Linked DNA regions of Homo sapiens: region 1 is linked to region 2. Evidence: fine-mapped expression QTL. A gene starts in region 2. The other region holds a variant in brackets. All regions are shown on one strand. Distances are between the middles of the regions.

Region 1 (2,906 bases), 43 kb before region 2:
AACAAATGAGATCCTGTCTGGTCTTGTACAAAAGCAATAAAAGGATCTTCTTCCTAAAAGCACTGAGGACAAGAAAAAGAAAAGTATGTATCAATAAGAAACTCACATGAACCTCATCACTTGCGACTTATGAGAGAAAGAAGAACAGAAAAGGTGTCCTGTCTTCCCTTCAAAATCAACTAGCAGGCCCTTTGTTTTTCTCCTTTTCTATTATTCAGCTGAAGCACAGCACAAAACACACAAATGTCAGTGGACAACTGTCTTTTTTATAAAAAAGAAAACAATTTAGGAAAGATTGGTGGGTAAGAAAATTGGCACCCACTGGCTGAAAGGTATTTTGGGATTTTCCAAGGATTTAACTGGTGTGCCTCCTATCCCATCTTCCCCATAAGAAAAGAATAGGAGAAAATAAGATTAGGAAAACATTCTGAGATTCTCTTAAATTTCAACAGATCATCCCAGTCTGTCTCTAGTAAGGGGAGTACAACTTTTATGACCCTTCATCCTCTTGTGAAGATGGAAGCCTTCACTTTAAAAATATTTTAGGCCAGGTGCAGTGGCTCATGCCTGCATTCCCAGCACTTTTGGAGACCGAGGTGGGAGGATCACTTGAGCCAGGAGTTTCAGACCAGCCTGAGCAACATAGCGAGACCCCGTCTCTACAAAACACAAAATTTGAAGAAAAAAAAAAAAAATAGCCAGGATGGTAGAGCACACCAGTAGTTCTAGCTCAGGAGGCTGAGGTGGGAGAGTCGCCTGAGCCCAGGAATTCAAGGTTGCAGTGAGCCATGACCTCATCACTGCACTCCAGCCTGGGAGTTAGAGCAAGACTTTGTCTCTAATTTAAAAACTAAAAATAAAGGCACCTTAAAAAACAACATTTTAGATTTTCCATTGTAGGAATACTGGCAAAAGAGCTGAGACGGTGAGATCAAAATACAGTAGTATCCCTTCTCCAAGGGGGGTAAGTTCCAGTACATTCTGTGAATACCTAAAACCCCCAACAGCATCTAACTGCATTATACTATTTTCTCTATGTATACATAGCTATGATACCTTAATTTATAAATTAGGTACAATAAGAGATTAACAATAAAACACTGTAGTAAGAGTTATTTAAAACTGGCGGTGCGCCGTGGCTCATGCCTGTAATCCCAGCACTTTGGGAGGCCTGACGTGGGTGGATCACCTGAGACCAGGACTTCAAGACCAGCCTGGCCAACATGGTGAAACCTTCTTTATTGTAAACACAAAAATTAGCCAGGTGTGGTAGTGCGCGCCTGTAGTCCCAGCTACCCAGGAGGCTGAGGCAGGAAAATTGTTTGAACCCGGGAGGTGAAGGCTGCAGTGAGCTCAGACTGTGCCACGGCACTCCAGCCAGGGCAGCAAAACGAGATTCCATCTCCAAAAAAAAAAAAAAAAGTTATTTAAAACTTATGAACTGTTTATTTCTGGAGTTTTCCATTTAATATTTTTTGGATGGCAGTTGACAGCGGGTAAGTGAAACCCAGATACAGTGGGGGGAGGGGGTACTACAGAA[A/G]GTAAAAAAGTAGCCTATTTTCAGACAATGTCTCCCAAGTAAGCAACAAGATGCTCATCATTCTTTGCAACACACATAAAGGGTGCCATGCAGATGATTTATACGAATTTTGTTTTTTTTTTTGAGATGGAGTCTCGCCCTGTCACCCAGGCTGGAGTGCAGTGGCGTGATCTCAGCTCACTGCAACTTCCACCTCCCCGGTTGAAGCCATTCTCCTGCCTCAGCCTCCCGACTAGCTGGGATTACAGGCGCGTGCCACCATGCCCGGCTAATTTTTGTGTTTTTAGTAGAGACAGGGTTTCACCATCTTGGCCAGGGTGGTCTCGATCTCCTGACCTCGTGATCCACCCATCTTGGCCTCCCAAAGTGCTGGGATTACAGGCGTCAAACACCGCGCCAGGCCTATATGAATTTTTAACTGTGCTTACTTGATCTGGAGAAAATTACAGCTGACCTCTGTTTACAAAATATCAACTTGTAAAAAAGGATATTTTATTTACAAAATATCAAGTCGTATTTTCTTTCTGTCGCTGATGTTTATGAAATATCAACTCCAACAGGAGTTGGTGACGATGAAAGTGAAACTTTCTGCTGACTTTGTATTTCTCCAAAGGTCATTTAGACTTCTAAGGGGGGCTGAGGAGAGCCGTGAGCCTCACTTTTCCTGAAGTGAGCCAGCAGAAACGGCACCGAAATTCTGCCCAGGATGCCACCGGTATTCAAAGAAGTGGCCAGCTCCTTGCTGCCCACCCCGGTTCCAGAAGCAAAGAGACACTTCCTATGTTTTTGCATCAGTAGAAGCTGCTAGCCCTGAGGCTCAACCGACCGCATGACATCGGCCGGACACGGAAATGCCGGCGGAGGCGGGAAAGAGTCTGCGGGCGCAGCTGCAGGCACTGCTGCCCGCCAGCACTCGGATTCGCCACAGCCTGTGTCTGCGACAGGCGTGCCCGTGGGCACTGGGCAAGCGGGCAGTGTCCCAGCGAGCTTCAGCCGCGCCTCTGGGATACAGCTGCGAAAAGCGGGGAGAGAATGGTTTCTCGTGCCCGACGGTGGCCCCGCCTCAGGCTCCAGCCGCGCGGCCCGGAAGCGCCGCGGCCACCGCCTACGGAAAATGGCTGCCTCCCTGCGGCCGCCGCCGCTCCAGCGGCTCCAGGGTCGAAGCCATAGGGGAAGCCGCTTCTCGGTTACCTCGGCCAGCTTGGCTTCCGTGGAGGCCGCTCCTCGCTTTCTGAGGCTCAAACGCAAGCCACCGCCCGAAAGGCCGCCGATCTGAGGAGCGCAACCGCCAGCCCACCGCTGGCCTACCGCAGCCCTGTCCAGGTACAGAGCCAGAGCGCCGGCCGGAAGTGGAAGTGACGCTTTC
Region 2 (2,906 bases):
TCCAGCCTGGACGACAGAGCGAGACTCCGTCTCAAAAAAGAAGAAAGAAACCAGATGCATGTGCCTTCTTTGAGCCAAACCATTACCTCTCTGGCTCACAGCATGTTACTAGATTTGTTCAAAAGGAAAAAACAGAAGTTTCAGCAACCGTACTCTAGGGTTCTGAGGGGGCAGAGTTTGAGAATCCTTGCTCTAGCCCGCCTCTGCTGATTATAAGGGAGAAAACGGCAGTGCTGCTGTTAGGCTGATGTATCTGTTCCTTTCACAGCTTTGGTCATAACTGGTAATTACCATTTACTTGTTCTCAGCCTCCTTGGAACAGCGATCTTGCCTGACACGTGCACCCTCGCACGTGGCACAGTAAGTGGGACACATTAGGCACTCGGAAAATATTTGCTGTAAACATGAAAGAAGGGCGACAGGCTAATAAAGTGTGGAAGGGTTTTGGGGTCAGCACAGCCCCGGGACGTCCCATCCCCGTGGGCCGCGGGCCGCCCGGAATACGACGACTCCACTTGCCGGCGCTGCTCCCGGGATACCAGCGACAACAGCGGCTCAGTCCCGGCAAACGGCGCGTGGCCCCTCCGGCGAAAAGCAGCTATAGGCTGTTGCGGCTGCCAATCAGACCAACAGAGCCGCGACTCGGAGACCTCTGGGAGACGTGGGCCCCCGCTAATCCGCCCTCCAATTGGCTCGCGTGCTCCCGGGGCGCTCTGGGAGATGTGTTTCTGGGAGTGTTCCGCGCATGTGCATGCGTGAGGGCGGGGCGTCGGGGTCGGGCTGGAGTGTCTGTCGCGCCTTATGTGGGCCCCTCGGCAGAAGACGCACTTTCGGCAGAAGCCGCACTTTTGGCAGAAGCCGCCCTGGGTCCTTTCCCTCCCGCAGGCAGGCCGGGACCCCGGCGGGAATTGCGTGCAGGTCGGGTCTCGCTTGACCCCAGCGCCTCCCCGCGTCCGGGCACACTGCGGACAGTTCCTTTTTATTCTCTACCGCTACTTCCTCTTTATCTTCTGCCGCTCTTTCCACACGTCTCCTCCCCCAGGCCGCTTCCCTTTGGGGCGCCGGGCCAGGGAGGGGCTGCCGGACCGGAGACCCCGGACTCGCGCCGGTCTCCGCTCGGGCGTGGGGTCCGTGGGGCGTCGGCGGGAGGGGTCCTGGAGGAGACGGCTGTGCCGGGGCGGGACCCCCTGTCCTCTTAACAGACGCGCCCCTGACAGTCGTGCCAGTCGCCGCCCTGGGCTTTGGGGACGTCCGAGGACGCAGCTGGCGGTTCCTCCCGCGGTTCCCGGCACTGTTACTTCCCCGAATTCCCAGAACAACCCATTTGATAGGAAATGGAAACTGAGAAAAATCGAGTAATTTACTCACGTCACACGGCCACCAGATATTTGAATCTCGTATTTCCCACCACTTCGTGGCTTCCAGGCTCATAAACAAGAAGTTGCAAAACAGGGTGAGGCGTGGGAATGACAGCAGCACGGGGCGGGGAGTGGAAGGGCGGAGCACCTTAGAGGGCAGGATTCAGCAAACGGAACCTCAAAGGAAACAGTGTCAGTGCTGCTGCTTAGTTGGTAAGAAAACAAAGGGCCGGGCGCGGTGGCTCACGCCTGTAATCCCACCACTTTGGGAGGCCGAGGCGGTCGGATCGCGAGGTCAGGAGTTCGAGACCAGCCTGACCAATATGGTGAAACCCTGTCTCTACTAAAAAATACAAAAATTAGCCGGGCGTGGTGGCGCGCGCCTGTAGTCCCAGCTACTCAGGAGGCTGAGGCAGGAGAATCGCTTGAACCCCGGAGGCACATGTAGTGAGCTAAGATCGCGCCACTGCACTCCAGCATGGGCGACAGAGTGAGACTGCGTCTCAAAAAACAAACAAACAAAAAAAGGGAGTAGCTGCCTTCCAGACACAGTTTTGTTATTTTTCTGCCCCTTTCACTAGCCTGTCAGCCCTTTGGTGGCCGGGGATTGCGTGTCCAAAGCCTGGCTGCTAGTCAGGTTCCTATAAATATTGGTAGGACAGAGCGTATTAAAGTTTTTATTTTAAGATTTTTAAGCACAAGAAAGTTGAGAGAGTAACATGAATACTCACGTACTCTCCACCTAGATTTAATAATCAGAAAAAATTATGTGTGTAGGCCTTTATTTTTTACAAACCCTCTTGTTTAACGTTACCGCCTTCCAAATGAAGCTCATTGGTGAGTGGTGTGGGGATCTATTCAGAGCCCCATGACTGCAGCCCTTCAGCAGGGTTAAGGCCACCTGCCACACCCCACTTTGGGAAGCTGGCTTCCTCTCCTCTCCCTCCGTTTCCAAGCTGCTCAGGAGGTGCCCTCAGAAAGATCAGTTACAATTAGTGTTATCTGCGTAGGGGACTGGGCAGCAGATCTCATTGATCTGGGCTGGGATCGGCAGGTGGGTTGGTCCAAGTTGAGAGGGAGATCCTGCAGAAGCTCTTAGCTGCTGCAGGATTCAACACTAACTCCTTAAGGTAGCAACAAGGGCCCTTTGTAAAATCTGGCCAGAAACAGGTATCTTAGATGCATCTTCACACCCGCCAGTATCCAGTCTACCCTTATCATGTCAGCCCTGCTTTCAGAATCACCCAGAATCTGACCCTTCTGCCTCCACAGTGGTTCAGGGCCCTGCAGTCGCTTTCCTGCATTGTGACAATAGATTGCTTTCTCCTCTCTGTTTCCACCTTTCTCATCTCTTGTCTCTTATGGAAGCCAGAGTGTTCTCTTTTCTTTTCTTTCTTTTTTTGAAACAGTCTCACTCTTTCACCCAGGCCAGAGTACAGTGGTGCGATCACAGGTCACTGCAACCTCCGCCTCCCAGGTTCAGGTGATTCACCTCAGCCTCCAGAGTAGCTGGGACTACGCGCACATCACCACCACACTCAGCAAATT

What was found. PIP is the estimated chance that this variant, and not a neighbour inherited with it, causes the effect.
Region 1: its variant is fine-mapped to the expression of LINC00921 in hypothalamus (GTEx, PIP 0.98).

What each region holds. Positions count from the first base shown.
Region 1 is chr16:3,305,469-3,308,374 of GRCh38, reverse strand. ZNF75A (zinc finger protein 75A) reads right to left here and starts at 2,878. Exons shown (of 7, transcript NM_001302109.2): 1 at 2,732-2,878; 2 at 1-62. RefSeq lists an enhancer at 2,855-2,906. The variant A/G (reference allele first, on the strand shown) is at 1,541.
Region 2 is chr16:3,262,346-3,265,251 of GRCh38, reverse strand. It overlaps LINC00921 (long intergenic non-protein coding RNA 921), which reads right to left and starts at 1,484. Exons shown (of 2, transcript NR_033904.1): 1 at 1-1,484. RefSeq lists enhancers at 504-573, 724-823, 1,264-1,423 and a silencer at 1,064-1,243.